Linked DNA regions of Homo sapiens. The protein of the gene in region 2 purifies or fractionates together with the protein of the main gene of each other region. This does not show direct contact. Each region holds a gene or a part of one and is shown on either strand. Other genes may lie near its edges.

Region 1 (4,863 bases), on a different chromosome or scaffold from region 2:
TCAGGAAAGATAACTAATGGGTACTAGGCTTAATACCTGGGTGGCGAAATAATCTGTACAACAAACCCCATGGCACAAGTTTACATAACAAACCTGCACACGTACCTCAGAACTTAAAATTTTTTGTAAAAGGCCAGGCCAGTGGCTCATACCTGTAATCCCTGCACTTTGGGAGGCCAAGGCGGACAGATCACTTGAGCCCAGGAGTTCAAGACCAGCCTGGCCAACAAGTTGATAACCCATCTCTACAAAAATAGAAAAATTAGCCAGGCATGGTGGCGGGCACCTGTAATCCCAGCTACTCGGGAGGCTGAGGCAGGAGAATCAGTTGAACCCAGGAGGTGGAGGTTGCAGTGAGCCGAGATCGCACCACTGCATTCCAGCCTGGGCAACAAAGCAAGACTCTGCCTCAAAAAAAAAAAAAAAGTTAAAAAAAAAGGTGAGTGGGGGCAGGTTTAATTAGACCTTTCCTCTAGACACTCTCTGGAAGGTCTTGGAATTAAAAATGTATATCTTTTGTATACCCACTCACACACTTGGCAAGCTGAATTGTCCACAGAGTTTTCCAAACCTTAATAATACAAAACCATAAAAAAAAACAGCAACCATAAATAGGAGGTAGAATAAATTGTATACAGTGCAGTCATTTCATAGAGTACTGTGCAACCATTCTAAACGCTCAGGTATCTCTGTGCTAATATTAGATTCCAAAATGCATTGTTACATACCTCACTTTTTAAACTTAGTAGTGTGTGTGTGTGTTTCTTTTTAAAATGACGAGTAGGTTGAAGAGGGCAGGGAATAGGGGTGGGTGAGCGTGAACAGAGTCAGGCTGATTGCTGCAGGGTCCCTTGCATTAGTTCAGGTGAGAAGAGACCCGAGTAGGCCAGTGAGCCTGGAGGAGAGGCTCTCTGTGTGTTTAATTGGTTTCCAGCTTTTTTTCTCTATTCATGTAGGTTATACACGTTTCTTCTGTGAATTTTTATTTAAATGATTTTTTGTTGTTACTGGATCTACAAACAGCCCAACTCCAAGGAATCTGGCATCTCTCAGTGGAGCATACAGGTGACTTCATAATCTAACCGCATTAGTAACTGCCAAAATCGGAAGTAATTTCTCTCTGTTTAAAAGGCAGTGAAACAAATTTTCAGAGCAGGTTTCTTCAACTGAACAAAATATTTTGGACCTTAGAGGTGGTATGGCTCTCCTGATCAGGGAGGGACAGTGAAAGGTTTGAGCTCTGACACTGCCCAGCTCTCTGGATACAACCAAGTGACTTTCTTTGAGTGGGGAGAAGTTTCCTGACTCCTTGTATTACCTTCCTTAGGGTAGACTTTGGGCCTGCAGTGACATTAGTCCTAACTTGCTCTTAGGTAAAAAGAGTTCATCTTTTCTAATAGGAACATGACAGCAAAGCAGCTCAAACTCCAAAGAGGCGTTAGGCCATAGATTGTACAGATGTCTACATTTTCTTAATCATAGTCTATATTCTTAGAAAAGGATATACAGATCTTAGTGTAACATACTTAAGTAAAATAGTTTCTTTCATTTGCTTCACAAGAGAAAGCAAAAAAATTTGGCTGGGCACAGTGGCTTACACCTGTAATCCCAGCACCTTGAGAGGCTGAGGCAGTTGGATCACTTCAGCCCAGAAGCTCAAGACCAGCCTGGGCAACATGGTGAAACCTCATCTCTACAAAAAAAATACAAAAATTGGGCCAGGCGCTGTGGCCCACACCTGTAATCCTAGCACTTTGGGAGGCCAAGGCGGGCGGATCACCTGAGGTCAGGAGTTCAAGACCAGCCTGACCAACACAGCAAAAATCTGTCTTTACTAAAAATACAAAAACTAGCTGGGCATGGTGGTGCGCACTTGTAATCCCAGCTACTTGGGAGGCTGAGGCAGTAAAATCGCTTGAACCCAGGAGGCAGAGGTTGCAGTGAGCTGAGATCGTGCTACTACACTGCAGCCTGGGCAACAGAGTGAGACTCCATCTAAAAGAAAAAAAAAAAAATTAACCAGGTGTGGTGGCATGTGCCTGTAGTCCCAGGTACTCAGAGGGCTGAGGTGGGAGAATTGCTTGACCCCAGGAGGTTGAGGCTGCAGGTGAGCCAAGATTGCACTACTGCATTCCAGCCTGGGCAACAGTGAGACACTGTCTCAAAAAAAAAGAAAAAGAAAAAAATATATATATATAATGTAGTATTGTATATATTGTATATATATAATGTAGTATTGTTCAGAGGGTCTTGGGATTTTCCTGAGGGTCCTAACCGGCTTCTCTGTCCTCATCAGCTACCCATCCTTCTCTACCTACGTTGTGCCCCTGCAGGGCATACACAAGTAACCTCCAAGAACGCGATGCCGCTGCTCCTTTAGCCCAACACCTGTGCCTTAGCCTCTGCTGCTCCATTGGCTAAAATGTGCTTCACCCTTATGTGCATAGTGACAGTTATTCAGCTTTCAGAGCCGAGCCCACGGGTCATGTCCTGCCTGTCATTCTCTCCAGACAGCTGATTAATGACCTCCTGCTGTATGGGGCCTTGATACCTTCCATGATTTCATTTATCTCCCTGTTGTCTAATTATTTGCCTGTCTTATCTCCCCTGACATAGGTACCTGACATACGTATGCTATTTAATTTTTACTTTGCGTCTAAATACCATTAAAAATTCAAAATTAATCCTACACTGAACCTTAAACACTTCTTTATTTTTAATAACTTTATGTCTCATCCTGTGGATACATCTTCACTTACACATTGTGTCTTTTACTATTGAGCATTTGTATTCATTATTTGCTGTTAAAAGCCTGGCTGTGACTATCTTATGGCTGAATCTTTTTTTTTTTTTTTTTAAAGTAGTTGTGTGTATATATATATATATAAAATTTTTTTTTTTTTTTTTATCATTCTTGGGTGTTTCTCGCAGAGGGGGATTTGGCAGGGTCATAGGACAATAGTGGAGGGAAGGTCAGCAGACAAACAAGTGAACAAAGGTCTCTGGTTTTCCTAGGCAGAGGACCCTGCGGCCTTCCGCAGTGTTTGTGTCGCTGGGAACTTGCGATTAGGGAGTGGTGATGACTCTTAACGAGCATGCTGCCTTCAAGCATCTGTTTAACAAAGCACATCTTGCACCGCCCTTAATCCATTTAACCCTGAGTGGACACAGCACATGTTTCAGAGAGCACAGGGTTGGGGGTAAGGTCATAGATCAACAGCATCCCAAGGCAGAAGAATTTTTCTTAGTACAGAACAAAATGGAGTCTCCTATGTCTACTTCTTTCTACACAGACACAGCAACAATCTGATTTCTCTGTCTTTTCCCCACATTTCCCCCTTTTCTATTCGACAAAACCGCCATCGTCATCATGGCCCGTTCTCAATGAGCTGTTGGGTACACCTCCCAGACAGGGTGGCGGCCGGGCAGAGGGGCTCCTCACTTCCCAGAAGGGGCTGCCGGGCAGAGGCGCCTCCCACCTCCCGGACGGGGCGGCTGGCCGGGTGGGGGCTGCCCCCCACCTCCCTCCTGGACGGGGCGGCTGGCCGGGCGATGGCTGAATCTTTGTGTACATGTTGTGTGAATTATTTTCTTAATCTGTAGTCTTAGAAGGAAAATTATGGTTGTGTGTGTGTTCCATATTCATTACACATTGGTGGCTCTGGCAGATATACGCCCCTTAGGAACTAATGCTATCTGATTCTTTCTGTGCCTCAGCTCTACGCTTTCTACTTTGAGAGTGATCATGGTTCTCTTTAACATCTTTTGTCCTGAGTGTTGAGCAGTTCACCACAGCATGTGTGTAGTATGAGGAGGGAAAAAAAACTTAAGGAACTTGGCAATTTTTTGTTCCAAGTGAAAGACCTAGACGGTTTTTTGTTGTTTTTATTATTTCCCATTGAAACTCTTAAATATGGTTTGGATTGTTTCCACCTCTTGGCTGTTGTGAATAGTACTTCTGTGAACGTGGGTGTACAAGGTCTTTGAGACTGCGCTTTCAATTGTTTTGGTTATATCCCCAGAAGTAGGATTGTTGGATCGTATGTTCTTTTTTTTTTTTAAAGCAGGGTATTACTCTGTCACCCAGGCTGGAACGCAGTGACATGAACACAGCTCACTGCAGCCTGAACTTCCTGGGCTCAAGAGGTCCTTCTCCCTCCACCTTCCCAGTAGCTGGTGTACGCCATCATGCCCCAAAAATTTATTTTGATTTTTGTAGAGGCAGAGTCTCACTATGTTGCCCAGGCTGGGCACAAATTTGTGGCCTCATGCAATCCTCCCACCTTGGTCTTCCAAAGTGCTGGGATGACAAGTGTGAGCCACTGCGCCTGACTACTATTTTTAATTTTTAAATTATTGTTATTATTTTTAGAAACAAGAGTCTTGCTCTGTTGCCCAGGCTGGAGTGCAGTGGTGCAATCATGGCTCACTGCAGCCTTGACCTCCCTGGCTCAATTGATCCTCCCACCTCAGCATCCCACATAGCTGGGGCTACAGGCATGTGCTACCATGCCCAGCTAATTTTTAACTTTTTCATAGGCATGGGATCTCTCTATGTTGCCCACACTGGTCTCAAACTCGTGATTCAAGCAATCCTCCTGCCCCAGCCTCCCAAAGTGCTGGGATTACAGGCATAAGCCACCATGCCTGGCCAGTATCTTACTGTTAAGGAATTAAAATCCAATTAAAAAATATTTAGCCTCATATACACACACACATACACATATGTGTGTATATATTTATATATATTTCTAATATATAGAAGTTTCTATATATTTCTATTATATCTAAGATACAATATACAGTTATCATGTTATCCCCCAAATAAAGGTGATTTCCAAGACCAGAACTGGAAGGTGGGAA
Region 2 (4,863 bases):
TCACTGTGTTGGCCAGGTTGGTCTTGAACCCCTGACCTCAAGTGATCCTCCTGCTTCAGCCTCCCAAAGTGCTGGGATTACAGGCGTAAGCCACCGCGCCTGGCCGGAAAGATTTCTTAAGCTCCCCTGATTCCTACCCTGAGCAGGGCCCTTGCAGGCAGTGCTTGGGTATGAGGAGGAGGCTTTTACTGGCAGGACAGCCAGAGTTCAGGCTCTTGATCCAGCTGGAGGTATAAGAAAGCCCACTAAAGAGACAGCCATAGCCATCCTCAGAGAAGGAAACTGATTAGAAATGAAGTTATATTTCTCCCATCACTGTCATCGGCAAAAAAAATTAAAATAAAAAAAATACAACAGCCAGAAGAATAAAAGTACCTTCAAGATCTTTTTTGGGGAAGACAACTAATAAATTTCTGTGAACTCCTTGAGGAAAGCATGAGTAAAGCAAGCAAAGAGCAGAATCTTTTTTTTTTTTCCTGGCCATAGCAGCATCTGACAGAAGTACAAATGCACAGTGCTGAAGTCTTCTTCATCCTAAGGTTGGCTAGGTTGGTTCCTTCAAAGGATTAAAGCTGTTCTTATAAGATATTCCAGATACCCTTTGTGAGAAATCCAAGATGTCAGAAGTGATTGACCATGGATTAGATCTTAATTATTATTGCCCCAACCATGTTGTTGGTAATCAGCCAAAAAAAGACAAAAATCCATGCTCTGCACAGCAATGCACAAGTCACCTCCACTTTGTGAGCAAGTTCTTCTGACAATGGGAAGTACTGTCTAGTTAGTGGGATTTGACCCCTGAAGTGTGGGTGGAGAGATGGAAGAGGGAATGGAAACAAAAGAGAAAACAAGCACTTGGGAGTGGCAGGGGAGGAGAGGCCCAGAAAGAATAGCAAAGGAGGATCTAAATGTCATAACCGAGGCCCTGGTGGTGCACCTATCAGCAACTTGGGAGGCTGAGGTTGAAGGATTGCTTAAGCCTAGGAGTTTGAGGCCAGCCTGGGCAACATATGAAAGATCCCTGCCTCTACTGAAATATTTTAAAAATTAGCAGGGCATGGTGGGCCACACCTGTAGTCCCAGCTACTCAGGAGACAGGAGGACCGCTTGAGCCTAGGAGTTAAGAGGCCATAGTGAGCTATGATTGCACCACTGCACTCTACCCCAAGCGACAGTGAGATCCTGTCTCTAATAATAATAATAATAATAATAATAATAATAAGGGAGTCATAACTGAGCTCAAAGGAACTCAAATTCTGGAGATCAAGCCAGAGATGTGGGGCAGAAGCAGTATATTGTGGTCAAAAGTGAGTACAGAGGACTTTAGAGGAAACTAGAAAATGGGATGGGAGAGAAAAATGAGTGATCAAAGAGAGGTCAAGTGGGGCCAGCAGTAGAGGCCAGCATCTGATTCCTGGTTATAACTTGAGCTCTGCAAACATGCTGAAAATCCCATAAGGTATATGAGGGCACGGTGTAACAAGATACTATCTAGTGTGAGATAATTCAATTAATCACTGTGATTGAAGCTGAGGAACAAAACTTGGGCATTATGAGTAGTAATACAGAACAAGATTAGAGGGAAAAAATGCTAGCAGTTAGTTGGAATGTTCTTCGATTATGTTTATATTGAACAATAGAGAAGCTGCATGACATAGAAAAGAGAGCAAAGAAGTCTGAAAATGCAGGTACCATTTCTGCCATGTTAACAAGCTGTATGTCCCAAGAAAAAGTATTTCCAATTTAGTGTGGGTTTGGAGTGTGTGTGATTATTTTATCATTTGTAAGAATAAAATAATAATAATAAAATAATAAGGGTAACTGCCTCAAAGAATTGTGAAGGCTAACTTGGTAATGTGCATTTAAACATTTTGTCAAATTGATCTTTTAAGCATAATAGAAACAGGATTGAGATAAGAATTAAAAACTTAAACATTTTGTGTAAAAAATGCTAATAATCAAAATAATAACTACCATTTAGTAAATGCCTATAGTGTGTTGGATGTAAACCAGATGCTTTGGAAACCTTATTTAATCTTCACAATCACCTGAAACTTGAATATCTTTATCCCCATTATACAGGCAAGGCTCAGAGAGGTTAAGGAACTTGCCCAGGATCATTCCTTTAAAAAGACCTTATTACTCACAAATGAAGTAAACAAATAATATTTAGTTTGTTTCATAGTTTCCTTAACTATAAATTGTAAAACTCTAACTCCCAGAAACAATAAGGAAATAACTGAAATAGGCAATACCTTTGAATTTCACAATTTTTTAATTTTACAAGGTAAAAAAAACAAATTTTAAAATTCTGTTGGGTAAATTGGAACAGTCTGGACTGGAGTTGGGGCAATAAAAAAACTTTAAATCTAACCTGTCCCAACACTTAAATGCCTTAACTTTGGAAATATTTCTGGGAAAAAAAGTTGATGAGAATATCTTGCCTTGTAAGTAAAAAATTGACTAATTGATTCATAAACTGAGTCAATTTTGTTACTTTTTGGCAAATTAAAAAATAAAGCTCTTGTTTACTTACCTAAAAGAGCCACGTCCAGCTCACTGGAATAAAACATCGCTGTCGCAAAACACAATCTAGGTCCCTTAATCCTGCCTTTTTTGATCTTAAAAGGTGGTAACATTCAGTTCGGAGCTCACTCATCTGTAAATTGCATCACATTATCTCTGAGTTATTTAAGAAGCAAGCTCTGTTTGGTTTCAGGCATTTTTAACCTGCTAAAGGCAAGAAGAAGTGTTCACCACATAGTTGCAAAGGTCTTCAACTTGCCACAGCCAACAGAAAAATCAAAATGATTGAACCCTTTGGGAATCAGTATATTGTGGCCAGGCCAGTGTATTCTACAAATGCTTTTGAGGAAAATCATAAAAAGACAGGAAGACATCATAAGACATTTCTGGATCATCTCAAAGTGTGTTGTAGGTAAGATATTTTTTAAGGTATTGGCATTAGGAATACATTTTTGAAGCACTTTCCCCTAAATTTTCTAACTTTCCAACTCTCCTTTCTGGCTCTAGTCCACAGCCTACAGTCCTTTCCTCTTTAGTTTCCAAACCTCCTACTCCCTGACAGAGTTGGAAAGGTAGTGTCTAAAATGAACCCCATCTCGGCTTATCAACACGGTCTTTCCAAATCAGACAACTAACAGATGGGGACAGAGGAAAATTCTCATTTGAAATATTGCATGATTTGAGCTGAGGATGACAAATAGGTCTATTATGGTTAAAGAAAAGCAAGCATTTTAAAAAATCCTTTGTTGGTGACCAGAGGGCAGCTGATTATGGGTAAAGAATGTTACTGGGAGTGAAATTACTAGTTTAATCTTTAGCATATTACCATCTTTACCAATTTCCCACCGACAGGTACTAAACTTAAAATTTGATATTAATTGACTGACCTGTGGCTTTCCATGTTTTCAGCTGTTCCCCACAAAAGGCCAAGAGAATTGTCCTCTCTTTGTTCCCCATAGCATCTTGGTTGCCAGCATACCGGCTTAAAGAATGGTTGCTCAGTGATATTGTTTCTGGTATCAGCACAGGGATTGTGGCCGTACTACAAGGTAAAATTTTTTTTAAGTATAATTTATATACAATAAAATTCTTCCTCTGAATGTGTACAGCTCAGGGACTTTTCGTATATTCACTAGGTTGTGCATCTGTCACCACTATCTAATTCTGGAACATTTTCACCACCACCAACCCCTAAAAATCCCTTACCCATTAACTTCACATCCCCCCTACCCTTTCTCTGTGGATTTGCCTCTTCTGCATATTTCATGCAAATGAAATAATACAATACATGGCACTTTGTGTCTGGTTTCTTTCACTCACCGTAATGTTTTCAAGGTTGATCCATATTGTAGCATGTATTGGTACTTCATTCCATTTTATGGACAAATAAGTATTCTGTTGTATGGACATATCACAATTTTTTTATCTGCTCATCGGTTGATGAACATTTGAGTTGTTTCCACTTGGGGGCTATTATGAGTTATGAGTAATGCTATTTTGAACATTTGTGTACAAATATTTGTGTGAGCATGCTTCAATTTTCTTGGGTATATCACTAGGATTGTAATTGCTGGATCATAGGGTAACTCTATATTTAATCATTTGTGGAACTGCTAACTTATTTTCTAAAGTAGCTACACCATTTTACATTTCCACTAGCAGTGTATGAGGGTTCAGATTTCTCCATATCATCAACACTTGTTATTGTCCATCTTTTTTCTTTTAGCTATCCCAGTGAGTGTGAAGTGGTATCTCATTGTGGTTTGCATTTGCATTTCTCTAATGACTAACAATATTGAATATTTTTTCCAGGTGTTTATTGGCCATTTGTATATCTTTTGAAACATGTCTATTCAAAGTTTTTATCCATTTTTAAATTGGGTTATTTGTCTTTTTGTTGTGGAGTTGCAAGTGTTGTTTCTATATTCTGGATACCAGACCCTTGTCAGATATACAATTTGCAGATAACTTTTTTATTCTGTGAATTATTGGTTAACTTTCTTGATAGTATCCTTTGAAGTACACGTTTTTAAATTGTGATTAAGTCCAGTCTATCTGTATTTTTCATTGGGTGCTTATGCCAGGGGTCCCCAGTCCCTGGGCCACAGACCAGTACAGGTCCGTGGCCTGTTAAGAACTGGGCCACACAGCAGGAGGTGAGTGGCAGGTGAGCAAATGAAGCCTCACCTGTATTTACAGCCGCTCCTTATTGCTCTCTTTACCTCCTGAGCTCCACCTCCTGTTAGATCAGCGACAACATTATATTCTCATAGGAGTGCAAACCCTATCGTGAACTGTGCACGCAAGGGATCTAGGTTGCATGCTCCTTATGAGAAT

What was found. The genes of interacting proteins can lie anywhere in the genome.
Region 1: the proteins of SLC26A3 (region 2) and SLC25A51 purify together in Homo sapiens (affinity purification with mass spectrometry; one large-scale study listed by BioGRID and IntAct). This does not show direct contact.

What each region holds. Positions count from the first base shown.
Region 1 is NC_000009.12:37,889,893-37,894,755, reverse strand, and holds part of SLC25A51 (mitochondrial nicotinamide adenine dinucleotide transporter SLC25A51), read left to right. Parts: intron 1-4,863. UniProt on the Homo sapiens protein: Mitochondrial membrane carrier protein that mediates the import of NAD(+) into mitochondria. Mitochondrial NAD(+) is required for glycolysis and mitochondrial respiration.
Region 2 is NC_000007.14:107,792,454-107,797,316, reverse strand, and holds part of SLC26A3 (chloride anion exchanger), read left to right. Parts: intron 1-2,719; 5' UTR 2,720-2,807; coding exon 2,808-2,938; intron 2,939-3,435; coding exon 3,436-3,575; intron 3,576-4,863. UniProt on the Homo sapiens protein: Mediates chloride-bicarbonate exchange with a chloride bicarbonate stoichiometry of 2:1 in the intestinal epithelia. Plays a role in the chloride and bicarbonate homeostasis during sperm epididymal maturation and capacitation.